7 linked regions of the Homo sapiens genome follow. The protein of the gene in region 1 purifies or fractionates together with the protein of each later gene. This does not show direct contact. Each region holds a gene or a part of one and is shown in the gene's direction. Other genes may lie near its edges. The genes, in order: UBE2U, FGB, HPX, CP, A1BG, SAA2 and APCS.

Evidence for each region.
Region 2: the proteins of UBE2U (region 1) and FGB purify together in Homo sapiens (affinity purification with mass spectrometry; one large-scale study listed by BioGRID and IntAct). This does not show direct contact.
Region 3: the proteins of UBE2U (region 1) and HPX purify together in Homo sapiens (affinity purification with mass spectrometry; one large-scale study listed by BioGRID and IntAct). This does not show direct contact.
Region 4: the proteins of UBE2U (region 1) and CP purify together in Homo sapiens (affinity purification with mass spectrometry; one large-scale study listed by BioGRID and IntAct). This does not show direct contact.
Region 5: the proteins of UBE2U (region 1) and A1BG purify together in Homo sapiens (affinity purification with mass spectrometry; one large-scale study listed by BioGRID and IntAct). This does not show direct contact.
Region 6: the proteins of UBE2U (region 1) and SAA2 purify together in Homo sapiens (affinity purification with mass spectrometry; one large-scale study listed by BioGRID and IntAct). This does not show direct contact.
Region 7: the proteins of UBE2U (region 1) and APCS purify together in Homo sapiens (affinity purification with mass spectrometry; one large-scale study listed by BioGRID and IntAct). This does not show direct contact.

What each region holds. Positions count from the first base shown.
Region 1 is NC_000001.11:64,216,962-64,221,231, forward strand, and holds part of UBE2U (ubiquitin-conjugating enzyme E2 U), read left to right. Parts: intron 1-1,049; exon of another isoform or gene 1,050-1,092; coding exon of another isoform or gene 1,093-1,093; intron 1,094-3,897; coding exon 3,898-3,946; intron 3,947-4,270. UniProt on the Homo sapiens protein: Catalyzes the covalent attachment of ubiquitin to other proteins.
Region 2 is NC_000004.12:154,565,241-154,569,510, forward strand, and holds part of FGB (fibrinogen beta chain isoform 1 preproprotein), read left to right. Parts: intron 1-567; coding exon 568-759; intron 760-1,248; coding exon 1,249-1,432; intron 1,433-2,352; coding exon 2,353-2,580; intron 2,581-3,140; coding exon 3,141-3,254; intron 3,255-3,941; coding exon 3,942-4,067; intron 4,068-4,270. UniProt on the Homo sapiens protein: Cleaved by the protease thrombin to yield monomers which, together with fibrinogen alpha (FGA) and fibrinogen gamma (FGG), polymerize to form an insoluble fibrin matrix. Fibrin has a major function in hemostasis as one of the primary components of blood clots.
Region 3 is NC_000011.10:6,434,114-6,438,383, reverse strand, and holds part of HPX (hemopexin precursor), read left to right. Parts: coding exon 1-28; intron 29-731; coding exon 732-944; intron 945-1,206; coding exon 1,207-1,338; intron 1,339-4,270. UniProt on the Homo sapiens protein: Binds heme and transports it to the liver for breakdown and iron recovery, after which the free hemopexin returns to the circulation.
Region 4 is NC_000003.12:149,218,847-149,223,709, reverse strand, and holds the start of CP (ceruloplasmin precursor), read left to right. Parts: upstream 1-1,880; 5' UTR 1,881-1,917; coding exon 1,918-2,063; intron 2,064-4,863. UniProt on the Homo sapiens protein: Multifunctional blue, copper-binding (6-7 atoms per molecule) glycoprotein. It has ferroxidase activity oxidizing Fe(2+) to Fe(3+) without releasing radical oxygen species. It is involved in iron transport across the cell membrane.
Region 5 is NC_000019.10:58,347,355-58,351,029, reverse strand, and holds part of A1BG (alpha-1B-glycoprotein precursor), read left to right. Parts: intron 1-378; coding exon 379-660; intron 661-3,389; coding exon 3,390-3,675.
Region 6 is NC_000011.10:18,245,601-18,250,366, reverse strand, and holds the start of SAA2 (serum amyloid A-2 protein isoform a preproprotein), read left to right. Parts: upstream 1-1,698; 5' UTR 1,699-1,764; intron 1,765-1,850; exon of another isoform or gene 1,851-1,911; intron 1,912-2,351; 5' UTR 2,352-2,355; coding exon 2,356-2,446; intron 2,447-4,318; coding exon 4,319-4,457; intron 4,458-4,766. Other genes in the region: SAA2-SAA4 protein precursor, read left to right, coding at 2,356-2,446, 4,319-4,457.
Region 7 is NC_000001.11:159,586,125-159,589,620, forward strand, and holds APCS (serum amyloid P-component precursor), read left to right. Parts: upstream 1-1,701; 5' UTR 1,702-1,797; coding exon 1,798-1,861; intron 1,862-1,976; coding exon 1,977-2,584; 3' UTR 2,585-2,741; downstream 2,742-3,496. UniProt on the Homo sapiens protein: Can interact with DNA and histones and may scavenge nuclear material released from damaged circulating cells. May also function as a calcium-dependent lectin.

The sequences.
Region 1 (4,270 bases):
CTTTCACTTGCAGTGTACCAGTTTGAACAAACGATTATCTAGCCAGTTGGGTGCCCAGCTGATCTTTCCTAAAAGCAAATGACTCTATAGTTGTGCCATTCTTAATGGTAAAGTCCATCCAGGTCCCAGTTGGCCAAACATGAGGAAGAATTGTTTGAAATAATTCAAGTTGCTTAAAAGAATGGACAAGGCCAGGCTGGCAGTTAGTAAACTCTCTATTACTAAAGGTATTCTTTGTATCTAGTGTTTATTTGATAGAGCTAAATGACCATTTTTCAGAGATGTTATCAAAGAGCTTCTTTGATAAAAAGCTCTGGCGCCAAGAATTGGATAAGGGGGCCTTTTCAATACCTTCCAACCTATTGTTCAACTAGTTTATGAAAACTCAGAGGAGGAAGGTCTGGAGACAATGTATAACAACTGTTTGCCTCATAGATTCTGAGTATTGCTACTTACTTTCTAATTTGTTATGAGCTTTCATAGGTTTCATATGAGCAATTATCTGCCCCTTTTTTCAGTTCATCCTTGTGAATGTTGATTTCTATGTAGTTATATTATCAAGTAATATTTATCTTCTGTTTGTCATAGTTGCTTTGATTTTTTAAAATGTAAGTTTTGTGTCATTTTTAAAACCTTTGGTTGAAGAAAAATACAAGAGTATAAAAAGAGTAAAGCTGAGTGATGGTAGCTAAGCCTGAGGTAATTATTTTTTCTTAGCCAAGTATATTCCTATAGTTTTTGATAAAAAAGGAGGATCATCTAATACATTTCAGATGCTCATCTAAATAAGCTATAATTGACATTGAGTCATAATACTAGAATAAAGGAGAATATAGAAATATTAGGGAGATTGTAATACTAATTTGTGTGATATACTTTTTAAAAACCTGATAATTCTACAAATACATCATATTCTGCTTGTGATTAAGAAAATGTTGTGACAGACATTTGATTCTTCTCCAATTCAAGTTCCCAGTTTGTTCACTGGGTTTAAAAAAATCCTTTTAATAATAGAGCAATTTTAAAGCAAATTGTCTCTACAATTGAAGCAGGTGGTGTCTCATAGGATTCCAGGTTGCCGTTTCTTTTTAAAGTGAGTATACTTCTTTGGTTAGGTGTAAGTATACCCCTTCCCCTGAGAAATATACTTTGTGGGTGTCGGGGGAACACAAAATTTAGTCCAGTAGCATTGCTTACTTGTTCAAGAACATGAGCTTTTTTAGCACCATCATTCAGAACCAGTTTTGTTGTTGATGATTACAGTTTTGTTACAGATATTCTGTTACTTAAAAATGTCATAAGATACTAAAAAACTGAGTTTAACAGCAGGGTAGAGTGTGGATCTATTTGCTCGAGTTACGTACCTCTTTTTTCCTGTTTGTATTTCATTATACCAGATAGTCCAGTAACTTTTCGGCAAAGTTTCTAAGTTGCTAGTTTTAACGAGAAATGTTAAATATTTATTTTCTATCAAAGAAATATATGTTGATAGTTTTAGAGGACAAATAATAGGAATCAGTTTTTAATGAAATATGTCCTCTATCCCTGAGTGCTGCCTGCCAGAGGCAACAATAGCTTTCAACACATTTAGCTGTTTCCTCTGGCATTTACCACCACATTTCTAAGTTGATTCTATACTAATATTTCTAGGCTTTTCGGTTTTAGATATTATTTATAGACTTCATCTTATAAAATACAAAGATTTTGCTTTTATACTACTATTGCTACCCACATTTCCTCTCCCCCATCCTCCTAATATGATTTGGTTACATTAATATGACTTTATAAATACTTGCCACAGATAAACCATAAATGATTATCTTTCTTTTCTTGTACAAAAGGTCTGATTTTACATTCCTTTGTTTTTTATGTGTGTACTATCTTTTCTTCTTCTAAACTTTCTGACAAAGCTATAAAACAGCTACTAGGTATTCAGTCAGCATCGAGTCTGTTTTGTTTTGGGAGCCCTCTTTCCTGTGGCACTCTATCCTTCCTCTCCATTTCTGAATTGGCAGTTCTCTTGCAGGTGTGCTGGGATGGCCTTTTTGGTGCCTGCTGGGTTGGAGCTCCTGCTTGCTGCTCAATCCCCATTTTCCTTGTGGTTGGTTTTGCTCCTTTGTTTTGTTGGAGTACATCTTCTAGGAGCTTCCTAGTACCTGGGAGCTAAACCTTTTATAACTTTGCATGCCTAAAAATGTAATTACGTTACTGTCATATGCTCATAGTTTGGTTAAATTTTAGTTTGGAAATAGTTTTCTTTCCAAATCGTAAATACTTTACTACATTTTAGTTTCTAGTGTTGCTCTTGAGAAGTCTAATTTCATTCCGATGTCCAATTTTTCACATGTGATTTATTCTTTTTTTTTCTGGAAGCTTTTTAAACCTTCTTTTTATTCCCAGTGATTTGAAATTTTTGATAATATTTCTTTGTGTATCCTCCCCTTCCCTGCCTCCACATTACATAGGACATTTGATAAGCTATTGAAATCTCAATCTCTAATCATTCAGTTCTGGAAAACTTTCTTATGTGATATCTTTTATAATTTCTTCTCTCTTCATTTTCCCTATTGACTCTTCTAGATCTGCTCTGATTTGAATGTTGGGTCTATTGATCTGATCCTCTAATTTTTTTTTTTTTTTTTAGACGGAGTCTCACTCTGTCTCCCAGGCTGCCAGGCTGGAGTGCAGTGGTGCGGCAATCTGGGCTCACTGCAAGCTCCACCTCCTGGGTTCACGCCATTCTCCTGCCTCAGCCTCCCAAGTAGCTGGGACTACAGGCGCCCGCCACCACACCTGGCTAATTTTTTTGTATTTTTTTAGTAGAGATGAGGTTTCACCATGTTAACCAGGATGGTCTCGATCTCCTGACCTCATAATCTGCCTGCCTTGGCCTCCCAAAGTGCTGGGATTACAGGCATGAGCCACTGCGTGCAGCCAATCCTCTAATTTTTTAAAACCAAATTTCTCCTATTATCCATCTCTTTGTTCGTTGTATATTCTGGAAGATTTTGAGAAAAATGTTTCTGTTTCCTATTTTTCTCTTTTTTTGTGGTTAGGATTGTTCTCTTTTATGGTATTGACCTTGCTCAAATGTCTAGTGATCTTTGACTATCCATTCTTATGATGGACATATGATGAATGGACTATTAAAAAGACTGGAAGTTCTGAATACAGGCTGGGCTTGTTGACAGTTTTATTTCATTGTAGAATTATTCAGTGAGAACCTGGCCATTTCATTAGACTTAACTATTTCTCCTGAGAGGAATCTGCCAGGCTTGTGGAGAGAGAGAGAGAGAGAGAGAGCAAGTGCAAGCAAGAGAGAGAGAGAGCACTGCTAATACTCTGACAGCTGGACGAGGGGAGAGAATCAGGAATCTTGTCTGTTCGATATGATTTATTCCATTTTCAGTTTCTTACTCCATCCTGTTTTGTTTCTACTGTCCTCCAGTCCTGAGTCTCTCTGGCCCAGTTTTTCCAGAGGTTAAATATCTTCCTTCTTGCGTGAGCAGTGGTCATCATGTGATTGCACAAGATGAGGGTATAAGTTTTTTGTCTGTGCTCTCCCTCTTACCCCTCCTTCCAGAGGTATCTGGCACATTCAATTCCTGAACTGTTTCACAGGTTCTGAAGTGCGAATCCATTTGCTTTTCGTTGGTCTCCTCTCATCAAGCAGTTTTTTTTTTCAAATTTCTATGGCCTGCTAAGACAGTTACCACTTGACATCTGCTTTCTATCTTGAAAAATTTTCTTGTCATCTTTCTTTTGCTCTCCTTGAGATTTTATATCTTATTTTTATTCCTTTATTACCATTTTATTGAGGCTTTGGAAATAGTGCACATAAAGCCATATATTCAATCTCCAAGTAAACCAGAATCCTTTCATATTTTTTCTTTATAGTGAAAGATGACAGCCAGGAGTTACCTAAAGACCCACGTAAATGTATCAGGTAAGTTTTTCTTTATACAATTTATGTCGATTTATTTACCAAAAGGACTATTTATTTAAACTCTTTATGTTTTTCATCATAATTAAATGTTTGTTTTTAATTTAGAAACATCTTATAATATCTTTTTAAAATATTGTTTTCAGAAAGAACATGGAAAATTTTGAATTCTTTCTAGTTGAATTAAAATTAAATGTAACTACATGATCTCGCTTTTTTCTTCTGAGATGGAGTTTTGCTCTTGTCGCCCAGGCTGGAATGCAATGGCGCAATCTCAGCTCACCACAACCTCAGCCTCCACGGTTCAAGCGATTCTCCTGCCTCAGC
Region 2 (4,270 bases), on another chromosome or scaffold:
TCAACCCTACGGTCAAGACCTACAAGTAGCCGAGCTCCAGAGTACATTATGAGGGTCAAAGATTGTCTTATTACAAATAAATTCCAAGTAGAATCAACCTTTAATAAGTCTTTAATGTCTCTTAAATATGTTTATATAGGAGTCTAATCACCAATTCACAAAAATGAAAGTAGGGAAATGATTAACAATAATCATAGGAATCTAACAATCCAAGTGGCTTGAGAATATTCATTCTTCTTGACAGTATAGATTCTTTACAATTTCGTAAGTTCCAATGTATGTTTTAGGAATATGAGGTCATTACTATTCATAATCTGATACAGCTTTATCCTAAGGCCTCTCTTTAAAAACTACACTGCATCATAGCTTTTTTGTGCAGTTGGTCTTTCTACTGTTACTGAACAGTAAGCAACCTACAGATTCACTATCACCAACCAGCCAGTTGATGGATCTTAAGCAAATTATCAAGCTTGTGATAACCTAAATTATAAAATGAGGGTGTTGGAATAGTTACATTCCAAATCTTCTATAACACTCTGTATTATATTTCTGCCTCATTCCTTGTAGGGTTTCTTCAGTGCCCGTGGTCATCGACCCCTTGACAAGAAGAGAGAAGAGGCTCCCAGCCTGAGGCCTGCCCCACCGCCCATCAGTGGAGGTGGCTATCGGGCTCGTCCAGCCAAAGCAGCTGCCACTCAAAAGAAAGTAGAAAGAAAAGCCCCTGATGCTGGAGGCTGTCTTCACGCTGACCCAGACCTGGTGGGTGCACTGATGTTTCTTGCAGTGGTGGCTCTCTCATGCAGAGAAAGCCTGTAGTCATGGCAGTCTGCTAATGTTTCACTGACCCACATTACCATCACTGTTATTTTGTTTGTTTATTTTGGAAATAAAATTCAAAACATAAACATATTGGGCCTTTGGTTTAGGCTTTCTTTCTTGTTTTCTTTGGTCTGGGCCCAAAATTTCAAATTAGGATATGTGGGTGCCACCTTTCCATTTGTATTTTGCCACTGCCTTTGTTTAGTTGGTAAAATTTTCATAGCCCAATTATATTTTTTCTGGGGTAAGTAATATTTTAAATCTCTATGAGAGTATGATGATGACTTTCGAATTTCTGGTCTTACAGAAAACCAAATAATAAATTTTTATGTTGGCTAATCGTATCGCTGAATTTTCCTATGTGCTATTTTAACAAATGTCCATGACCCAAATCCTTCATCTAATGCCTGCTATTTTCTTTGTTTTTAGGGGGTGTTGTGTCCTACAGGATGTCAGTTGCAAGAGGCTTTGCTACAACAGGAAAGGCCAATCAGAAATAGTGTTGATGAGTTAAATAACAATGTGGAAGCTGTTTCCCAGACCTCCTCTTCTTCCTTTCAGTACATGTATTTGCTGAAAGACCTGTGGCAAAAGAGGCAGAAGCAAGTAAAAGGTAGATATCCTTGTGCTTTCCATTCGATTTTCAGCTATAAAATTGGAACCGTTAGACTGCCACGAGAATGCATGGTTGTGAGAAGATTAACATTTCTGGGTTAGTGAATAGCATTCATACGCTTTTGGGCACCTTCCCCTGCAACTTGCCAGATAAGCACTATTCAGCTCTTATTCCCAGTCTGACATCAGCAAGTGTGATTTTCTATGAAAAATTCTACTATGACTCCTTATTTTAAGTATACAAGAAACTTGTGACTCAGAAGATAATATTTACAGAGTGGAAAAAAACCCCTAGCATTTATAGTTTTAACATTTGAGGTTTTGAATGAGAGAGTTATCCATAATATATTCAATTGTGTTGTGGATAATGACACCTAACCTGTGAATCTTGAGGTCAGAATGTTGAGTGCTGTTGACTTGGTGGTCAGGAAACAGCTAGTGCGTGAGCCTGGCACAGGCATCTCAGTGAGTAGCATACCCACAGTTGGAAATTTTTCAAAGAAATCAAAGGAATCATGACATCTTATAAATTTCAAGGTTCTGCTATACTTATGTGAAATGGATAAATAAATCAAGCATATCCACTCTGTAAGATTGAACTTCTCAGATGGAAGACCCCAATACTGCTTTCTCCTCTTTTCCCTCACCAAAGAAATAAACAACCTATTTCATTTATTACTGGACACAATCTTTAGCGTATACCTATGGTAAATTACTAGTATGGTGGTTAGGATTTATGTTAATTTGTATATGTCATGCGCCAAATCATTTCCACTAAATATGACTATATATCATAACTGCTTGGTGATAGCTCAGTGTTTAATAGTTTATTCTCAGAAAATCAAAATTGTATAGTTAAATACATTAGTTTTATGAGGCAAAAATGCTAACTATTTCTACATAATTTCATTTTTCCAGATAATGAAAATGTAGTCAATGAGTACTCCTCAGAACTGGAAAAGCACCAATTATATATAGATGAGACTGTGAATAGCAATATCCCAACTAACCTTCGTGTGCTTCGTTCAATCCTGGAAAACCTGAGAAGCAAAATACAAAAGTTAGAATCTGATGTCTCAGCTCAAATGGAATATTGTCGCACCCCATGCACTGTCAGTTGCAATATTCCTGTGGTGTCTGGCAAAGGTAACTGATTCATAAACATATTTTTAGAGAGTTCCAGAAGAACTCACACACCAAAAATAAGAGAACAACAACAACAACAAAAATGCTAAGTGGATTTTCCCAACAGATCATAATGACATTACAGTACATCATAAAAATATCCTTAGCCAGTTGTGTTTTGGACTGGCCTGGTGCATTTGCTGGTTTTGATGAGCAGGATGGGGCACAGGTAGTCCCAGGGGTGGCTGATGTGTGCATCTGCGTACTGGCTTGAACAGATGGCAGAACCACAGATAGATGTAGAAGTTTCTCCATTTTGTGTGTTCTGGGAGCTCATGGATATTCCAGGACACAAAAGGTGGAGAAGAGCTTTGTTCATCCTCTTAGCAGATAAACGTCCTCAAAACTGGGTTGGACTTACTAAAGTAAAATGAAAATCTAATATTTGTTATATTATTTTCAAAGGTCTATAATAACACACTCCTTAGTAACTTATGTAATGTTATTTTAAAGAATTGGTGACTAAATACAAAGTAATTATGTCATAAACCCCTGAACATAATGTTGTCTTACATTTGCAGAATGTGAGGAAATTATCAGGAAAGGAGGTGAAACATCTGAAATGTATCTCATTCAACCTGACAGTTCTGTCAAACCGTATAGAGTATACTGTGACATGAATACAGAAAATGGAGGTAAGCTTTCGACAGTTGTTGACCTGTTGATCTGTAATTATTTGGATACCGTAAAATGCCAGGAAACAAGGCCAGGTGTGGTGGCTCATACCTGTAATTCCAGCACCTTGGGAGGCCAAAGTGGGCTGATAGCTTGAGCCTAGGAGTTTGAAACTAGCCTGGGCAACATAATGAGACCCTAACTCTACAAAAAAAAAAAAAATACCAAAAAAAAAAAAAAATCAGCTGTGTTGGTAGTATGTGCCTGTAGTCCCAGCTATCCAGGAGGCTGAGATGGGAGATCACCTGAGCCCACAACCTGGAGTCTTGATCATGCTACTGAACTGTAGCCTGGGCAACAGAGGATAGTGAGATCCTGTCTCAAAAAAAAAAATTAATTAAAAAGCCAGGAAACAAGACTTAGCTCTAACATCTAACATAGCTGACAAAGAGTAATTTGATGTGGAATTCAACCTGATATTTAAAAAGTTATAAAATATCTATAATTCACAATTTGGGGTAAGATAAAGCACTTGCAGTTTCCAAAGATTTTACAAGTTTACCTCTCATATTTATTTCCTTATTGTGTCTATTTTAGAGCACCAAATATATACTAAATGGAATGGACAGGGGATTCAGATATTATTTTCAAAGTGACATTATTTGCTGTTGGTTAATATATGCTCTTTTTGTTTCTGTCAACCAAAGGATGGACAGTGATTCAGAACCGTCAAGACGGTAGTGTTGACTTTGGCAGGAAATGGGATCCATATAAACAGGGATTTGGAAATGTTGCAACCAACACAGATGGGAAGAATTACTGTGGCCTACCAGGTAACGAACAGGCATGCAAAATAAAATCATTCTATTTGAAATGGGATTTTTTTTAATTAAAAAACATTCATTGTTGGAAGCCTGTTTTAGGCAGTTAAGAGGAGTTTCCTGACAAAAATGTGGAAGCTAAAGATAAGGGAAGAAAGGCAGTTTTTAGTTTCCCAAAATTTTATTTTTGGTGAGATTTTATTTTGTTTTTCTTT
Region 3 (4,270 bases), on another chromosome or scaffold:
CAAGCTGAAGGCGTCCTCTTCTTCCAAGGTCAGTCCAGGCTGGAATCCAAGAACCTGGAGTAGTGGTGGGTTGGTAGTGATGCCAGTAGTGATGGTGATAGTGGTAGTGATGGTGGTGGTGGAGCCACTATGTGGCTTTTTAAGGAAGGGAAATAGAGAAGCCACGTATGGTCTAGAGGTCACGTGAGGGAAGGAGAGGAAGTCATTCTGGTGAAGGCAACTGTGTGTAATTCTGTGTGAATAGTCCCTCATTGTTCCCCATGACCCTTAGGACAAATCTACCCTCTTTAGTCTTACATACAAGTCTCTCCATGGCCAAATCCCTATTGGCCCTTCAGCTTTGACTTTTATTATACTTTTACCTTAACACTAAGCTCCAGAAACCCTATGCTATTCTCTGTACACTCAGTTTGCTCCATGCTTTGGAATCTTTCCTCTCTCTGGGGTTCCATCTCTCCTTGTGTGCCTTTTAATTCCTACTTCAGATTTCACTTTAAGTATCATCTTCCCTGGGAAGTTTTCCCAGACTCTCCCCACTGCCTTTGCTGAGCTGATCCTGTGTGTTTTGCTGCTGAATTTTGGTGTATGATCACCCTCCTTTAGCCATCTCTCTGATGGCTGTGAGCTCCATGTGGTCAGTACCATTATCTGGCCCATCCTGGGACCCAGAGAAAGCACAAAGGAGGGCGTAACCCGGTCTCACCAAATGCCTGTTGATTGATTGGACAAAGGTGACCGCGAGTGGTTCTGGGACTTGGCTACGGGAACCATGAAGGAGCGTTCCTGGCCAGCTGTTGGGAACTGCTCCTCTGCCCTGAGATGGCTGGGCCGCTACTACTGCTTCCAGGGTAACCAATTCCTGCGCTTCGACCCTGTCAGGGGAGAGGTGCCTCCCAGGTACCCGCGGGATGTCCGAGACTACTTCATGCCCTGCCCTGGCAGAGGTGAGAAAGCCCTAGCACTTGAGACCTGTCAGAATTCATCCACTTTCCCTGAGCTTGTGGATCTCACGTGTCCTAGCTCTCACTTTAACTCCGTGTTGCGACACCTTGGCCCTTAATCTAGCCCCATTTCCATTCTGGATTTTCCCATTGCCCTCATATGGGGAAACCCACACCCCACTAACCCCAGCCATCTCTTCCACCTTGGACCTCACTCTGACCTCTGGCCTCCTTCTGTGTTCTCCTCACCCATTTCTCTCTCCAGGCCATGGACACAGGAATGGGACTGGCCATGGGAACAGTACCCACCATGGCCCTGAGTATATGCGCTGTAGCCCACATCTAGTCTTGTCTGCACTGACGTCTGACAACCATGGTGCCACCTATGCCTTCAGTGGTGAGAGATGCCCCCAACTCCCCCAATGTGCTCTCACATCTCTTTTACTTGTATCTCCCATCCTTGACACATTTCTCCATTGTCATCACTGTGTCACTTATTTTGTCCCCTCTGTCCCCATCCTTCTGCATGCCCTTCTGCATCCCTCATCTCTGAGGCATATTTCTCAATCTTGTCTGTCACGGCCCAAGCCCCTAACTTCATCTACCTGTCTACCATCTACTCCCATGGCTGTGCCCCCTGTGGACCTCTCTGGGCCCCTATGACTCCTTGTGTTCTCCTTGCTCAATGCCCTGCTGAGCCCTCTGGCTCTCCCTTGCTCCCTGGACCTCTATGTGTCTCTGTACCTCCTTGCCTCCCTTTGTTCTTGCATATCTTTCTGAGTCCTCTGGCTCCCCCTGATTTATCCTCAGAACTCCATCTTGTTTCAGGTTCCTGGTTCCTATGTCCAGACCCCTGGGCATAGCACTGCCTGGGGATGAGATGTTCTCATTGCTGAGAACCAGCTGAGAAGTGTTGGGTACTTTAGACCTTTAGAGGCTGGCTTCACTAGCCTCTGGAGGTTTCTCCTCTGAGTAGCCAATGGAGATACCCCTCCCTTGACCCGTGGCATCAATTGGTAAAAGCCATCTAATAATACCTAGGGCTGTTCTGAGTTCAGTCAGGCAGTAAATAGTCATGCTGCACAGTTGAGAATATCCCCAAGAGGAGTGAGCAACCACATCACATCCAACCTGAGATATATGTATAATTAGGACAGTGGTAAGAATATAAAATCGTGAAAATATTTTTTTCACACAAAATTTTTTTGGCTCCTGACCCTTGGACAAATTTGACCAGTTATGACTATCAAGTTCTGTTGAAAAATACATCACCACATGGAGAGCAAATCTCCACAGCAGGATTGCACACTATAATAAGAACATACAGCTAAGATGAAACACACACCTGTAGTGAAAATACAACATTAAACTGAGAACATACGCCATAGTAAGAACACATAAGTATCAAGAGAACACACAGCCATGGTGGGAGCCCATTGGGAGGACACACAGACAAAGTGAAATGCAGAAAGAGAGAGAGAGTGAGTGAGAGATTGTGAAAACAGGGCCACAGGAAACACACAGAAATAGAGAGAGACACCAAGCCATCTAGAGATCACAGAACTTCAAGGCCATGTGGCCATAATGAGAATGCTACTGAACTCCTAAATGAAAAATGTCATGTATGTTCCATAGCTGTTGAGAGAGCCCACAGCATGGAGAGAACACCTTATATTAAAAATACCCAGGCCGGGCGTGGTGAGTCACGCCTGTAATCCTAGCACTTTGGGAGGCTGAGGCAGGTGGATTGCTTGAGCGGCTTGAGCCTAGGAGTTTGAGACCAGCCTGGGCAACATGGCAAAACCTCATCTCTACAAAAAATATAAAAATTAGTCGGGTGTGGTAGTGCGTTCCTATAGTCCCATCTACTTCAGAGGCTGAGCCCGGAAGGTCGAGGCTTCAGTGAGCCGTGATCGTGCTACTGCACTCCAGCCTGGGTGACAGAGTGAGACCATGTCTCAAAAAAAACAAAAACAAAAAACAAAACAAAACAAACAAACAAACAAAAAACCCATATATATATATATATACCTAGCTGAGGTGAGAATGCACTATTTTGGTAAAATCACCAACATGACCCAGCTACAGCATGGGGCAGTCCCTCCCCTCTCACTGGTAAATTTTTCTTTCTCTGACTCACAGTTTTGTTGTTGTTGTTGCTGTTGTTTGAGATGGAGTCTCACTCTGTCACCCAGGCTGGAGTGCAATGGCGCAATCTTGGTTCACTGCAACCTCTGCCTCCTGGGTTCAAGCGATCCTCCTGCCTCAGCCTCCCGTATAGCTGGGACTACAGGCGCATACCACCATGCCTGGCTAATTTTTGTATTTTTTTTTGGGTTACAATGTACTATTTATTAATTTAATTTTTGTATTTTTAGTAGAGATAGGGTTTCACCATGTTGGCCAGGCTGGTCTCGAACTCCTGACCTCAGGTGATCCGCCTGCCTCGGCCTCCCAAAGTGCTAGGATTACAGGCATGAGCAACCACGCCTGGCCCCTCATAGGTTTTTATCTATTCTCTTTGCTTCTTCACAACTTTGGCTTGCACGTGGACCATCATGTTCTCTCCACTTTCTCACTACTTCATGATCTTTCAGTCTCAGTTCCAACTGATACCTCCCTCAGTTGCTCTTTTTTCCTAGTAAGATTTCCAGAGAGGGAATCTGAATGGCCCAGTCCATATTTTCAGACCACACCACATTAAAGTGGTTGATTGCCAGCCTATGTATTGGCTACATTAATGGGTTGGGAACTCATCATTTACTTCATTGCACAAAGCAGCATAGCTCTGGTTCTCAAAATAGGGCCCCTGGGCCAGGTGTGGTGGCTCATGCCTATAATCCCAACACTGTGGGAGGCCGAGGGGGGCAGATCACTTGAGTCCAGGAGTTCTAGACCAGCCTGGGCAACATGGTGAAATCTCATCTCTACTAAAAATACAAAAAATTAGCCAGGTGTGGTGGCATGCACCAGTAGTCCCAGCTGTTCAGGAGGCTGAGGTGGGAGGATTGCTCGAGTGTGGGAGGCAGAGATTGCAGTGAACCGTGACTGTGCCTCTGCAATCCAGCCTGGGTGACAGATTGAGACCCTGTCTCAAAAAACAAATAAATAAAATAAAATAAATATGGTTCCTGAGCAGGGTAATTTCAGTGGGAAACCTCCCAGGGGAGGTGGATATGTCAGTCACCGCTGTATACTCAGTACACGGCTAATAAGAGAACTTGTGGTAGCAGCAAGAACACTAGGTATTTACTCAACAAATATTTGTTGAGCATCTGATAAGAAGTGGGCATTGTCCTAGGCACTGAGATACAGTAGTCAACATGGCA
Region 4 (4,863 bases), on another chromosome or scaffold:
ACCATTAGGGGAAAAGCAGCTTCTTGCAAGGCACAGGGTATGGCCGGTGGCATCTGAGCAAGATTTTAGTCCTTCGTCAGTCCTCTCAGTGGACATGACGGCACAATTGTTCAAGGCAGTCCTAGAAGGAGGCCTTGGGGCATCCTGGGCAACATGATTCAGTTTTCTGTACCAAGCCATTTAGTTAAGATTATTACCAGCTGGTGAGAGAAGCTCCTCCACTGTCTGCCTTAACATAGGTCATTTCAATTAACCTGAGATTTTCAGATGAGGAAACTGAAGCTGGGCTGAAGTATCTTACTTGAGGTCATTTGGTAGCATCAGATTTTTCCCTAGCACTCCTTATTCTCCTTCTCTGCTTTATTTTTCTCCATAGCATTCACCACTAATATTGTGTATTTCATTTTTCATTTTTATATTTTCAGTTTCCCCAAGTAGAATGTAAGTTGCATGATGGTAGGTGTTTTGTTCTCTGCGGTATTCCCAGTGAGTAGAACAGAACTTGGCACAGACTGCTGTATTCCCAGTGAGTAGAACAGAACTTGGCTCATTCAATAATATTTCCTAAATGAAGGAATTGTTCAAATATCGCATGCTTTCTTCTATACCAATCTATTTCAACAAGTGGCCTTCAGCAAATACACAACGTTTTGAGGTATTTGAGAGAAAAAAAATTATACTAACACAAAGTGTCAACTGTTATCAGGATTTTCTTCAGCTAAAAAAAAAAGCCATTTCATACTTTTAGACATATACTTCCTGACTAAAAACAGGGTTTTAAGAAAAAGTCTTCCACCTTAAAATTCATATCCACTTCAAAGAGAAAAATTTCAGTCTAATGATAAACTGGGGTACTTTCTATTTACTAAGACTAATCTTTGCCTCTGAAGACAGGTTTAGTTATGGTTTGTTTATTTGATGATTAAAACAAAGTTATTAGCCCCTGTTAGGCTCTGCTAGTTATTTGCATATAGCAATACAGAATGATCTGGTAAAGTTTTTATGCAGATTTGGTCCAAGCTCATAAAACAGATAAATTCTTCCAAATTAAATTCTTATTTTTGTTTACTTAAATTTGGCATGCTAGATATCATGTTTCATATCATAAAGCTGCAATTAATCATTTGTTAGACTTTTAGAAATAGTCATGCACCACATAATAATGTTTGAGTAAATGACAAACTGCATATGTGATGGTGGTCCCATAAGATTATAATAACATATTTTTACTGTACATTTTCTATGTTTGCATATGTATAGATACAGAAATATCATTGTGTTACAATTGTCTATAGCATTCAGCATAGTTATAGACTGTACAGGTTTGTAGCCTAGGAGCAATAGGTATACCATATAGCCTACCTAGATGTATAGTAGGCTATATCATATAAGTCTGTGTAAGTACACTCTGTGATAGTCACACAATGACAAAATAGCCTAACAATGCATTTCTCAGAACGTATCCCTGTCATTAAGAATGACTGTAGTAAAAAGCTACATGTTTTGATTCATTTTACATAATTCTTATCCTGATTTACTAAAAGTGCACTGTTTGCAGGACACTGTGCTGTGACATATTGTCAGAGGAACAAAGGGAGCATTTAGACACGTTCTCTGCCCTCCTGGAATTTACACAATGAATGGAAAAAGGCACAGAGTTATGCACACCCTAATGCCTCCAACAATAACTGTTGACTTTTTATTTTCAGTCAGAGAAGCCTGGCAACCAAGAACTGTTTTTTTGGTGGTTTACGAGAACTTAACTGAATTGGAAAATATTTGCTTTAATGAAACAATTTACTCTTGTGCAACACTAAATTGTGTCAATCAAGCAAATAAGGAAGAAAGTCTTATTTATAAAATTGCCTGCTCCTGATTTTACTTCATTTCTTCTCAGGCTCCAAGAAGGGGAAAAAAATGAAGATTTTGATACTTGGTATTTTTCTGTTTTTATGTAGTACCCCAGCCTGGGCGAAAGAAAAGCATTATTACATTGGAATTATTGAAACGACTTGGGATTATGCCTCTGACCATGGGGAAAAGAAACTTATTTCTGTTGACACGTAAGTCACTATTTTTATTGTTTATAGACCAAAATTTTAAGTTATTTTTAAAGGATAGAGCCAATAAGATGAAATATTTTTAAAATTTCTTATATACAGAAACTGCAAAATGTGGGCTTGAAACCCAAGACACTTGAATCAATCTCCTTTATATTCCTGTATATTTTTTATTTGGTGGACTACCCTGCTTCTTTCCTGTTGTTCCTGGGGATCTGTGTTCACATCTTACTACCTCCCATGGTCGTAACTGCATCTCCGATTAGGAATCTGTCTTTTTATGTGTTTATGCAGAAGTTCTTTCATTTAAACAATTACTGTATACAATGTTATGTTTATTGCACCATTTAATGGTTATTCATGATAGGCATAAAATTTTTTTATATCTTTCAAAACATCACTTATAGAAATAAAATACAATTTTAGCAAATAAGATCCTGCCTGATATTTATTGAGAGACTCCAGACAGTTAAGTAGGTTAATCTTTCACAGCTTCAGGGTCCTAATTTGTAAAATGAGGATAATAAGCATAGCTCATAGGGTTATTTAAAGAGCGGGTGCATGTAAAGCTCTTAGTACAATGCTTGGCACATATGTGCATAAAAAAATGTCAGGTACTTATTAGGATGGTCCTCAAAAAGCTCCATGTAACTTAAATGTCTTCATTTTTCAGTTGGAAAATCCCCTTATTGAAAGCAATATTCACTACACAGTAAAACAAAAAGTTTAGTTCTCCTTGAAGTTTTTTGTACAGAAGTTTATCTATACTGAGGTCTTCACTTTTAATGATGTTAATTAAACATTAACCACCAAATGGGAACTTGGAATTCAAAATCAATATTCACTACATTAAAATGTATTTCAGTGGTAATAAAACACAAACAAGCCCAATGACCATCAGCTGCCAAGATTATATCTTTAAAAAACAGCTAAATAAGGATGCCGAAGTTTGTAATTATTGAATCTTATTGATGAGTATATACTATTTTCTTTAACATTATGTAAAGTTGAAATTTTTCACCATAAAAATAAATACATAACAGATACTAATATCCAATTATTATATTATGAATTTAATAATATACAATAAAGAAAGTTTCTGACCTGAAGATAAGTGGTTGTAAATAAAACTAATACATCTTGTAATTATTTCTTTTTTAACCTGGTTTTAAGGTGGTATTATCTTCTAAGGAATATGACATATTTTTACAGCTTCACCAGAAACATTATTTTGCATGGATTCAGTATTTTCTTGATTAAATATAATATAAATTATATGTGGTTTTTATTTCCAAGGAAAAAGTCAGACACATTAAAAAAATAAAAATACTATCCTTCTCTATGCCCCCACTCACCACCACTCTGCCATTGTTCGTGATCAAAAATCAAATCAGCTTTATCAGGCATAAACTAAGTGCAAGACATTGCCCTGAATATGCTTCAAAAAAAAATCTTTAATTCTAAAAATCAGGGAGTAGAAGAGTGAAGGAGTTTGTTTAGAATTTGGTGAATGGGGGCGGAGGAAATTCCTTTGTTTTTAATTACTCCTGTGGCCTGTCTGTGCCAGGGAAGCTACCCAATGAGTATAAGCCTGTTTACCCCATTGTGACTATATTAGTCTCTTCTTATGCTGCTAATAGAGACATACTCAAGACTGAGTAATTTATAAAGAAAAAGAGGTTTAATGGACTCACAGTTCCACATGACTGGGGAGGCCTCACAATCATGGTGGAAGGCAAAGGAGGAGCAAAGGCATGTCTTACATTGCAAACTTTCCCATACCTTCCTGTCATCTGAGCCCTCCAAGTCTCTAGGAAGTTCCAAACTTTCCCACATCTTGCTATCTTCTTCTGAGCCCTCCAAACTATTCCAGCCTCTGCCTGCTACCCAATTCCAAAGTCACTTTCACATTTTTGGGTACCTTTACAGTAGTGCCCCACTCCAGGTACCAATTTACTGTATTAGTCTGTTCTTACACTGCTAATAAAGACATACTCAAGACTGGGTAATTTATAAAGAAAAAGAGGTTTAATGAACTTACAGTTCCACATGGCTGGGAAGGCCTCACAATCATGGCAGAAGGCAAAGGAGGAGCAAAGGCACGTCTTACATGGCAGCAGCCAAGAAAGAGCTTGTGCAGGGGAACTCTCATTTATAAAACCATCAGATCTCATGAGACTTATTCACTACCATGAGAACAATATGGGGGAAACCACATCCATGATTCAGTTACCTCCACCTGGCCCCCTCCCTTGACATGTGGGGATTATTACAATTCAAGGTGAGATTTGGGTGGGGACACAGCCAAACCATATCAGTTACTTAAAAAGTATACTTAATAGAGATACTTAAGGCTCCTTAAAAGGAAAAATGGAGCATCTTCTAGTTGCAAAGTCCACCTCTCTTTTTGTTATTGTCCTGTGACTTTAACATCTCCTCTGGCTTCAACAATATGCTACAGTTTTGCAAACTCTAGGTGGGACTGCTTTCTCTGTGATTTTTTTCCCCCATATATCTTACCAGTGAATTTTGAATACAGCTTCAGCAATTTTGCCAATACTATGCTAAACTTTTTGCATAGATGTGTGCAGATAGCAACCTTTTGGTCCCTTCTTTGTCCCAGATTTGCAGCATGTTTAGCCCAGTCAGTGAAGGATGATGGAGTATCACAAGACATGGTTGGCACTTCTTATCGTATGATGACTAAAAAGGAGTGGAAATAAATGGGCTGAAGAATAAGATGTGAAAGAGTGTAATATGAATTTTAGGTAAAGAATCGAGTTTAAGCTGAATGTTGATCTTG
Region 5 (3,675 bases), on another chromosome or scaffold:
CCCCATGCCCAGCGGACCACAGGGGCCCCTCCGTGGGGCGGGCATTGGGGCGGTGCTCAGAAGACGCTCGTGGAGCAAATCCACTACTGAGCGGCATCGTGCACCAGGCATCAAGCCATGCACAAAACATGTCCCCGTCCCCGCTTCCCGTCTGTGTCTGTAGACAAACAAATTACTAAGAAACAGTGAAAGGGTGCGTGTGAGATATCCAAGGACTGGGATGCAAAGGTGGGGCGGGCCCGGAGGAGGCGAGGGAGGAAGCTGGCCAGGTCATTGCGGGCAGAAGACTCAGCCAAGGCAAAGAGCGCGAGGCCAGACCACGCGTTAGGGCCGAGCCAGCCGCTGGGCGCCCGGGTCAGCCCGTGTGCTGCTCCGCAGAGACGCTGCCCGCGCCGGAGTTCTCCCCGGAGCCGGAGTCCGGCAGGGCCTTGCGGCTGCGGTGCCTGGCGCCCCTGGAGGGCGCGCGCTTCGCCCTGGTGCGCGAGGACAGGGGCGGGCGCCGCGTGCACCGTTTCCAGAGCCCCGCTGGGACCGAGGCGCTCTTCGAGCTGCACAACATTTCCGTGGCTGACTCCGCCAACTACAGCTGCGTCTACGTGGACCTGAAGCCGCCTTTCGGGGGCTCCGCGCCCAGCGAGCGCTTGGAGCTGCACGTGGACGGTGAGCTGGCGGGGCACCAGCGAGGGCGGGCGCGGGTTCAGTGCCCCTCGGGGCCTCCTGTCTTTCCCCTCTTTCCTTGGGCGTCCGACGGCGGCGCTCTGGGCCTTGGTTCAGCCCCCATCGCCTACCCCGGCGGGGAGCAGGCGATCGGTGGTCGAGGGTCTGGGGACGCCTGGAATTTCGGCTTATTTCCCACGGACGCAAGCCCGTAGGTCACGTGTAGCGTGGTGGTCGGCAGCAGGGAGGCTGGCCCCAGGTTTTCTTGTTCAGATCCCTGCAGCTCTGTGGCTGCCTTGTTTTATTACTGGCCATGTCAGTCGTCATACTGGACCCCCCGCCCCGGCCCCGGTCCCGCAGGCGCACGGCTGATGTGTCCTTCTCCCCATCCCCGCCGTCCCCAGCTCTGTTTGTCCCTCTGATTTCCTCATCGACGTCTCCAGGACTCAGAGCCCAGCAGAGCGTGAGGGCACAGGTCTGACCTCCAGATCTTGAGGTCGTACCCTTTGCTGGGAGCACCGTTTTCTCTTTTCTTTCACTTTCTTTCTTTTCTTTCCTGCCTTCCTTCCTCTTTCTTTCTTTCTCTTTCCTTCTTTCTTTCTTCCTTCCTTCTTTCTCTCTTTTCTTTCTTCTTTTTTCTTCTTTCTCTCTCTCTCATCTCTGCCCCCCAACCCCATCTCTCTCCTTCATTCCTCCCTTTTCTTCTCCTTTTTGTTTTTTTTTTGGATAACTTACTTTTATTCTTGCAGGCCGGAGTGCAGTGGTGCAGTCTCAGCTCACTGCAACTTTCGCCTTCTGGGTTCAGGCAGTTCTCCTGCCTCAGCCTCCTGAGTAGCTGGTATTAGAGGCGCATGCCACCATGCCCACCTAATTTTCGTATTTTTAGTAGAGACCGGGTTTTGCTATGTTGGCTGGGCTGGTCTTGACCTCCTGACCTTGTGATCTGCCCGCCTCTGCCTCCCAAAGTGCTGGGATTACACTTGTGAGTCACCATGCCCAGCCTATTCTTGCAGTGTTATAAGCCACCATCCACAATTGATGAAAAATGTTTAATCTTGGCCAGGCAAGGTGGCTCACGCCTGTAATCACAGCACTTTGGGAGGCCAAGGCGGGTGGATCACAAAATCAGGAGTTCAAGAGCAGCCTGGCCAACATGGAGAAACCCTGTCTCTACTAAAAATACAAAATTAGCCAGCTGTGGTGGCACATGCCTGTAATCCCAGCCACTTGGGAGGCTGAGGCAGGAGAATTGCTTTAACCCGGGAGGTGGAGTTTGCAGTGAGTCCAGGTCATGCCACTGCATTCCAGCCTGGGCAACAAGAGCAAAACTCCATCTCAAAAAAAAAAAAAATGTTTAATCTTTAAATTGTACATCTATATCCTATGACTCCAAATTTTATTTATCACTCTCCTTAAAGTCTGAAGAAAATGATTAATTTACTAAGCTCCAAAGACAACACAGTCCCACTGACATAACATTTAGTATGATGTCCTACTCTCCTGTTAGAATTAAGAACAGCCAGTATCAAACTGGCCTGAAATCTGATTGGGTTCCTGGGCTCAGAATAACTGTAGTAAATTTGTAAATCCACACTAAGACACAAAATTAAACTAGGATGTGTATATCTATCTTACAAGAAAACGTTTCACAGTAAAAATTAACATTATGATTTTACCAAATTTCAACATTATAGTTTGTTAATCCAATCAAGCTTTCAAAATTCCTGATTAGCTTACAATTAATTGCAAATAACTTCATGTAGTTTGGCTAGCATTTCAAAATGGATAGGGAATATAACTTTTAAAATGCGAAAGTATATTATACATATTGCACTTTTCTGCTAGGCTGGGCTAGTATCTTCCATGGCAAGATACTCAAACTATTGAATAAAATACACATTTAAATCAAGCACTTACATGTACTTCATTAATTTCCCTGAAATTATCAACAGCATTACCAAAATCTTCCAGGATTTTGTAACATTTGATTCCTTACAGTTTTGTTTTGTTTGTTTGTTTTTGAGACGGAGTGTCACTCTGTCACCCGGGCTGGAGTGCAGTGGCGCAATCTTGGCTCACTGAAACCTCTGCCTCCCAGGTTCAAGCAATTTTCCTGCCTCCACCTCCCGAGTAGCTGGGATTACAGGCGCACGCTGCCACGCCCGGCTAATTTTTTGTATTTTAGTAGAGACGGGGTTTCACCGTGTTACCCAGGCTGGTCTGGAACTCCTGAGCTCAGGCAATCCGCCTGCCTCGGCCTCTCAAAGTGCTGAGATTACAGGTGTGAGCCACTGCGCCCGGCACCTTAAATACACTTTTAAAGTTAAACTTATGGAGGGAAAACCCTCATCTATTGACATAGATTGTATGTCCTTTTTTGGTCCCTCCATGAAGGAGCACCGTTTTCTCCATCATTTCTTCTTCCCTTCACCCGTCAGAGTGACCGAGGCTGGGGACCCCAGAAGCCCCAGAGCAGGCCCGAATCTGGGACTTCCACGGTCCTGGGGGAGGGGTGCGGGGACACTCACGTGTGGCGCGGATGTCCGGGGTGTGAAGGCAGCGGGCGCAGCTCGGCGGCGCCGGAGGAGCCCTCTGCGCCCAGGAACAAGACAGGGAAGATGAAGCCGGGGCTGAGGCGCAGGCGCGGGCGCGGCCTGGGGTGTGGCCTGGGGTGTGGCCTGGGGCGTGGCCTGGGGCGTGGCCTGGCCCGACCACCCGCCCGCTCCGCCCAGGACCCCCTCCCAGGCCTCAGCTCCGGGCGACGTGGAGTGGGGCGGTCCTGGCGGGCCGAGATGCCGTCCTGCGCTGCGAGGGACCCATCCCCGACGTCACCTTCGAGCTGCTGCGCGAGGGCGAGACGAAGGCCGTGAAGACGGTCCGCACCCCCGGGGCCGCGGCGAACCTCGAGCTGATCTTCGTGGGGCCCCAGCACGCCGGCAACTACAGGTGCCGCTACCGCTCCTGGGTGCCCCACACCTTCGAATCGGAGCTCAGCGACCCTGTGGAGCTCCTGGTGGC
Region 6 (4,766 bases), on another chromosome or scaffold:
TGCTATAACATATTGGTATTTATCCTTTCTCAAGTCAGAAATGGTCTCTTTATTTTGTTATACATTTTCCTTATCATCAGTAGATGTTGACAATTATGAAATTCATTTTCTGCATCTAGTAAAATAAATGTACAATCCTTTTCTTTGATTACTGGTATAGTGAATTACAAAGATAGATTTTTCTGATATGAAACTCTTCTTGACTCCCTGGAATAAGCCCTGGTTAATCACGATGTGCTATTATTTTCACCTGATCTGTGCTGTACCATGTACAGCATGATGTACTATTACTGCTACCCAGTTGGAAACATTCAGCCTCTCTCTGTGAGCTCTTTTTCCCTGGGGATGTCAACTACCCTGCCTAAAATATGTGTGACTGTGTGTGTGGACCCATTCCAGCAGGTACCACTCTCAGTGGTTTTAAGGTGGCAAGATGTAGTGGGGGAGGTGGAGGTGTCAATGCATAGGTCTCAGAACAGAGTCTATAATATCATTGTTCACATTGGAGCCACGCATTTGCTGCTTATGGAGTATTTGGCCATCCTTTACTTCCTGGCCCTACCCATTTCTCAGAGATTAAAAAAAATTTTTTAAGATAATCTTGCTGTGTTGCCCAGGCTGGCCTCAAATTTCTGGGTTCAAGCAGGCCTCCTGCCTTGGCCTCCCAAGTAGCTGGGACTATAGGCACATGCCACCATGCCTGGCCCATTTCTAAATTGCTTGTTTGTTTGTTATTACAAATGCCTAGCCCTCAGGGTATGAACATGGACTGGAGAAGAAGAAACCAGAGTTGCTGCTATGTCCACCAGCCTCTCTGCATGTCCTGGCCTCAGCCCCCCTGGGCTCTGGTACTGACCCATCTCTGGCCACCATGCTCCTCCATAAGCCTCTGCAGAGCTAATCTGACCCTGTTGATGTTCTCATGAGAGAGTGATCTGCATGCCCCCTGCACCCCTCCGTGATAATACAGCAGACCAAGAGCTCTCCCACCCTTCCCTGCCTGGATGCTGGGCACGTCCCCAGCTGGGCTGCCTATTTAACGCACCACACTCTCATTCTCCCAAGGTGGGGCTCCAGGACTAGGCTGGGGCAGCAGAAAGTCCCCCTCTCTACATTGTCCTTGGCTCAGGAGCCAACTTAGAAAAAGCATTTCCAAATTGGCTAAGCCAGCGGAGCAGAGATTTTCTGTGCTGAGAAATATCAGGACATCCAGAGGGGTGGAAGGAGGCTTCCAGGGCACACATGAGATGTGGCAGGGGTAGGCTGTCCGTTTTAAAGCTTAAAGCTTTAGACATGAACTCACAGGGATTTCAGTCAGGGTCATCTGCCATGTGGCCCAGCAGGGCCCATCCTGAGGAAATGACCGGTATAGTCAGGAGCTGGCTGAAGAGCTGCCCTCACTCCACACCTTCCAGCAGCCCAGGTGCCGCCATCACGGGGCTCCCACTGGCATCTCTGCAGCTGCACTTCCCCCAATGCTGAGGAGCAGAGCTGATCTAGCACCCTGTCCATTGCCAAGGCACAGCAAACCTCTCTTGTTCCCATAGGTTACACAACTGGGATAAATGACCCGGGATGAAGAAACCACCGGCATCCAGGAACTTGTCTTAGACCAGTTTGTAGGGGAAATGACCTGCAGGGACTTTCCCCAGGGACCACATCCAGCTTTTCTTCCCTCCCAAGAGACCAGCAAGGCTCACTATAAATAGCAGCCACCTCTCCCTGGCAGACAGGGACCCGCAGCTCAGCTACAGCACAGATCAGGTGAGGAGCACACCAAGGAGTGATTTTTAAAACTTACTCTGTTTTCTCTTTCCCAACAAGATTATCATTTCCTTTAAAAAAAATAGTTATCCTGGGGCATACAGCCATACCATTCTGAAGGTGTCTTATCTCCTCTGATCTAGAGAGGTAAGCAGGGTCGGGCCTGGTAGTACTTGGATGGGAGAACACCTGGGAATACCAGGTGCTAAAGGCTTTAAGAATAAAAAATAATGATCCTGCTTTGTGTTTATCCCATGTTGAGTTCTGTGCGGGGCAGAGGGAACACACGGTAAATGCGTTATGGGGAATTATAGGCTACTTGAGGGAGTGACAGTCTGGTGGTAACTCCTGCCTTCCTCCATCAGTGCCACATTGGCATCCTCTTATGCAGTCAGGCTTCAGGGCTGATGGGTTCAGAACCGAGGGCTTCTGGCTCTGAGTGAGGTCCTGCTGCAAGGTTTCCTAGATGAGCCACTGAGACTCTAATAAGATCCAGTGGAAATAACCAGGCTCTCGTCGGAATATAAGTCCCAAGGGAAGCTGTGCCAGTCTTGTGGGCGACTGCCTGACTTCTCCTTTCATTTCAGCACCATGAAGCTTCTCACGGGCCTGGTTTTCTGCTCCTTGGTCCTGAGTGTCAGCAGCCGAAGCTTCTTTTCGTTCCTTGGCGAGGCTTTTGATGGTAAGGCTTCAGAAGGTTTGCAGGATTTCTGAAGAGAAACATCGCCCTGGACCTGATAAACTGGGGAAAATGATGCTTTCGGAAGGCTGCTTTTGAACCACAGAGTTGCTAGTGTCTGCGTTGCTGAGGCCTGCCAGGAACTAGGGTTTGCTGGGTTGCCTGTCTCGAGTCTTTCAGAGCTGCTGGGAATATCCCCTTTCCCCGTAGTGCAGCTTCTCAGGATGTGTTAAGTGGATGGATCACATTTCAGAAGCCGCTGCAAGGTGTATCAAAAACACATCTCCTGAGCCGTAAGGGACGGGGCATCCAGTAACAACGCACACGGGGTATTTTTGGGCTTCCTTAAGATTTGAGCCGCTGCCTTAGGTTGTGCTGCCCAATGTGCCTGGGGAGCTGCTAAACAGATTAGAGAGTCGAGGATTGTTGTCAGTTACTCAGAGAAAGAACAATCATCCTTTCCAGGAGCACCTGAGCTGTTTGTTTTGAGTAGAAGATGCAAAATAAGGCCTGCAATTGGTATAAAATGTCCCTCAGCATAAATCGCATAGGAGTATGACTAAGGCTGTTGACTCTTCTGTCTTCTTTCTCCTTCCTCCTTCGATTTCCTAGTTGGATAATGTACAGGGCTCTTTAGCCTCGCTCTGTCAGGGGCTCCCTTCCTGGTTTGTTCTGTTTCCATTCTTCCTTCTCCAGCCTTCTTGACAAGAGCTGGGAACTAACGTGCCTCAAGCCCCCACAAGGACCACAGCATTTTCTCATCTAGTTTCAGAATGACTCTGTGAGGCAGGCATCCCTTCTGTGAAGGTGAGAAAGCTGAGACTTAGAGCAGCTGAGGCCAATGCCCAGGGACTTACTGCCAGTCAGCAGGTGGCAGGGCAGAGGTTTGAGCCCGGCTGTGCTTGAGGTCAGGGCTCTTGCCAGGTAGACGCATCACTGACCACCTCCCAGAGGTTGATGGTTATGAATCTCAGACACACCTTGGCATCACCTGAACTACCCATGCCTTCAACTCCCCAGCAGAGTCTGCAGAAACTGGCCTGGGGTGTGGCCTGGGCACTGGGACTTTCAGTTTCTCTCTGGGTGATTAGAAAGTGCAGCCAAGGCTCACGCCTGTAATTCCAGCACTTTGGGAGGCCAAGGTGGATGAATCACTTGAGGTCATGAGTTCCGGAGCAGCCTGGCCAACATGGTGAAACCCTGTGTCTACTAAAAATATGAAAATGTAGCCAGGCGTGGTGGCAGGCACCTGTAATCCCAGCTACTCAGGAGGCTGAAGCAGGAAAATCACTTGAACCCGGGAAGCGGAAGTTGTAGTGAGTTACATTGCTCCAGTGTGCTCCAGCCTGGGTGACAGAGTGAGACTCCGTCTAAAAAAATAAAAAAGAAAAAGAAAGTGCAACCACGGCGGAGAACCGCTGCTCTATTGCTTCCTCAAGCAACCCACAGTATCAGTACAGCCTACTGAGAAAGTGTTTAGGGACTTTTATGCTCCTAACAGTCACTGGAACTCAGGTCACAATGACATGTATTCCATTTGCAAGAATATATACTTTAGTAGTCAGGGCAGAAGTACTCTGTGTCTGCCACCTTTCTCAGCATCAGTATTCCATGTCACCACCTCATTCATATACACTCCTGGATCTTATCATAGGCAGCTTCATTCTATAGCAGTGGCTCTTCACCAGGGCACTTGAAGAAGCCAACTAGGATAAAGGAATGTGCTTCTCAACCCATGGTATCCAAGGCTGCTATGATCACAGGCTGAAAGCTTGAAGTCAGTGGAAGATTTGTCCTTCTTTCATTCCCCTCTAAGGTGTTGTTGGAGTCTTTATGTTCTCCTGATGTCCCTTCTGCCTTTCCTTTCCTTTCCAGGGGCTCGGGACATGTGGAGAGCCTACTCTGACATGAGAGAAGCCAATTACATCGGCTCAGACAAATACTTCCATGCTCGGGGGAACTATGATGCTGCCAAAAGGGGACCTGGGGGTGCCTGGGCTGCAGAAGTGATCAGGTAACTGGAGCTCCTGGGACGTTAGGGCTGGGTGAGCAGAGCTTGCCTGCCTTGGACAGTCAGGAGGGAGACGAGCTCCTTGTGGAGAAGTTAGAGGCTGTGGTCCCTCCTCTTCTTGCCCTCTCTCTGCCTCTGTGCTCAGTGTGAGGGTCTGAGTGGATGGTAGGAGTGAGTGATTCCTCCCCCTCCCCCTCTGGGTGCTGTTCATCCAGCCTAGGGGTGCCCAGCCTGTCTGAATGGGGCAGTGCCCAGGCAGGGTCAGTGTTTTCACTCCTCCTTCCTTGGCCTTTCTGGGCTCCTCTCTGAGCC
Region 7 (3,496 bases), about 95 Mb from region 1:
GTTGGGATATTAGAAAAGTCTTCATGAAGCAGATTGTTTTTTATTTTTTATATTTTTGTATAAATTCAAGGCATACAAGTTTAGTTTTATTACATAGACAGCAATAACATAATAGTGAAGTCTGGGCTTTTACTATAACCATCACCTAAATAAGCTTGAGATTAATGTGGAAGAATGGCTGGAATTCCTAGAAACAGGAAAAGAAAATAAGAGAGAAATTCAAGACAGTATGAAGGCACTGAATAGAAGTAATGAAATCAAGAAAGCCAGGAAGGTATAAAGAACAACAATTAGAGGTGTTTGACTGGAGAATAGGATTAGATTCTGAGATAATAGCCAGGTTAGAGCCAGATTGCAAATGGCATTGGCTTCCAAGCAAATGGTCTGTATTTAATTCAGGAGTCAATAGATGCATAATCCCAACTTTATCACTAACCTATACTGTGCAACAAGCCAGATAAGGCTTCACAACCTGGGATTCCATTTAGAGAAAAAAAGTAGAGAATGGAAACTCCCCAGGGATGAGAATAGGAAGGATACTTTGAACAATGATAGAGAAAGTGTATTCTTGGTGGCAGTGATTGTGTCATTGAAAAGGCTGATTAGGTCTGTGGTGAGCTAACAGAAGAGAGAGTGAACAAGAGGCTAAACAGTAGGATGAGAAACAAGACACCATATAATTCAGGGATGAGAGAGAAAGAAATAATGTGGCTAGAAAGAAGAACTTCAGTTTGATATCTCAGAGGCAGAGAAGGTTTGAGTGGTGGTTAATAAACTGTACAGAGAGAGAATGAAGGAGACATAGAAAGAATGAAGGTGGAGATCTCTGGGGCTGTGAGAGAGCCAGTGACCACTGAATCCCCAGCACCTAGTGTAGTAACTGAGAGCTAGTGAATAAATGTATTAGTGGGGTCATCACCAAAGATGGATTAGATATACACTCAATGACCAAGGACTCAAAGAAGAGGAGAGAAAAACTTGGGGAGATGCTGACATCTCTGCAGGTAGCATGAAGTAACCAGAAAACAAGTCGTAATGAGAAATGGAAAGATCTAGGATAAGGAAGCACCATGATATGCAAACGAAAAAAAAGCACTGAGTAGAAGTAGCAGAAAAATACTAAGCTTCATGGGGACAGAAAGTTTATTCTCCAAGTCCCTCTTTCCCCTTAGCTTTGCCTGGATGTATTACTTGATGTTGAATTAGTCAAAGTTGAAGGCACTTTTTAGGGTCTTCAGCAGAAAGCAGAATCCTAGAATATCCTACAAATACAAGACAACTTGAGAACTATAAAAGAAAGAAAAGGCCTTGTTCCCATAGCCCACAAGAGGGCTGAGCTCAGCGATACACTCTGTGTGGCTCAGGAGCTTCTGGCAGAGCACAGAGCCATCAGAGAGGGGGCCCAGAGAGCAGAGAGAGGCTCTGCTGACATGGCCAGCCCAGCGCCTCATCCCATCCATAACCCTGCTGCCCTGCAATGACTCTCTTCCCAGCAATAAAATCTGGGTCACAGGAGTTGGAGCTCTAGCCATCACTTGTCTCTAATAAATAACTCCCATTGATTTTCCAGCTCAGGGCTCACCACTCCTTCACCGTAAGCGCCAGGAGGCAGACCTGGAAAATCACTCACATATTATTGGTGCTCTTCCTCCCCCATCCTCACCCAAGGTGCATATAAACCCTGAATAACCTGAAGTCTAAGGGCATGAATATCAGACGCTAGGGGGACAGCCACTGTGTTGTCTGCTACCCTCATCCTGGTCACTGCTTCTGCTATAACAGCCCTAGGCCAGGAATATGAACAAGCCGCTGCTTTGGATCTCTGTCCTCACCAGCCTCCTGGAAGCCTTTGCTCACACAGGTAAGGAGGTGAAGGAATGGTCAAGAATCATAAAGTGAGAAAATAGGTTGAAGCTGAGATATCTTTTCCCTGCATTTATACTGAAGGTCATTATCTTTCTTTCTTTATCCCGCAGACCTCAGTGGGAAGGTGTTTGTATTTCCTAGAGAATCTGTTACTGATCATGTAAACTTGATCACACCGCTGGAGAAGCCTCTACAGAACTTTACCTTGTGTTTTCGAGCCTATAGTGATCTCTCTCGTGCCTACAGCCTCTTCTCCTACAATACCCAAGGCAGGGATAATGAGCTACTAGTTTATAAAGAAAGAGTTGGAGAGTATAGTCTATACATTGGAAGACACAAAGTTACATCCAAAGTTATCGAAAAGTTCCCGGCTCCAGTGCACATCTGTGTGAGCTGGGAGTCCTCATCAGGTATTGCTGAATTTTGGATCAATGGGACACCTTTGGTGAAAAAGGGTCTGCGACAGGGTTACTTTGTAGAAGCTCAGCCCAAGATTGTCCTGGGGCAGGAACAGGATTCCTATGGGGGCAAGTTTGATAGGAGCCAGTCCTTTGTGGGAGAGATTGGGGATTTGTACATGTGGGACTCTGTGCTGCCCCCAGAAAATATCCTGTCTGCCTATCAGGGTACCCCTCTCCCTGCCAATATCCTGGACTGGCAGGCTCTGAACTATGAAATCAGAGGATATGTCATCATCAAACCCTTGGTGTGGGTCTGAGGTCTTGACTCAACGAGAGCACTTGAAAATGAAATGACTGTCTAAGAGATCTGGTCAAAGCAACTGGATACTAGATCTTACATCTGCAGCTCTTTCTTCTTTGAATTTCCTATCTGTATGTCTGCCTAATTAAAAAAATATATATTGTATTATGCTACCTGCATTTGTTTAGTGCTTGTCATAGTCCCATATCTTTATCTTATGTCTACTACTTATCTATCTACTAATTGGTGTTTCATTGGTAATTGGTGTTTCATTATCCTGAAAACTCCAATTGCCAAGTACGGGGAGGAAAACCTGTAAGTAACTAGAAAGATATATCACAAAGCCAGAGCACTCAATGAGCACAACAGTGGCAATACTTAAAAGCTACTAACAATCATTTTAATGACGATTCAAAATATGTGTGGAATTGTAATCACAATTCTCCTATTTGTTTTTCCAGCTACAAATCGATCAAAAAGGGGTCTGAGGTTGCATCAGGTAGACAACTATAATGATATAAGTAAGCAATAGTTGAGAACCTGACAGCAAGTAATAAGACAGGAAGAATAAAACTAGAAGAAGTCAGAATGAAAACCAAAAAAGTATGAGACTGGGATCATTTTGTATGAAGACAAACATAACTTTATGTCTCAAAAACCTCAGTAGGACTGTACAATGCTTGATTTTCATAATGTTCTCTTGATGTCATCAAAAAATATTATACTCTGAATATTGCTCACATGAATATGCTGTCTAAAATTCTTCCATGGATTCACACTTCTTACAGGACATGATTTAAACCTCTAAATATGACATTGCCCTCTATAACCTGGTCCCAGTTACTCTCTCTGAAATGTACACAGAGAGTATACACAGAATACTCTCTGAAATGGACTTTCCATGTACATTTCAGATACAACTCTTAGC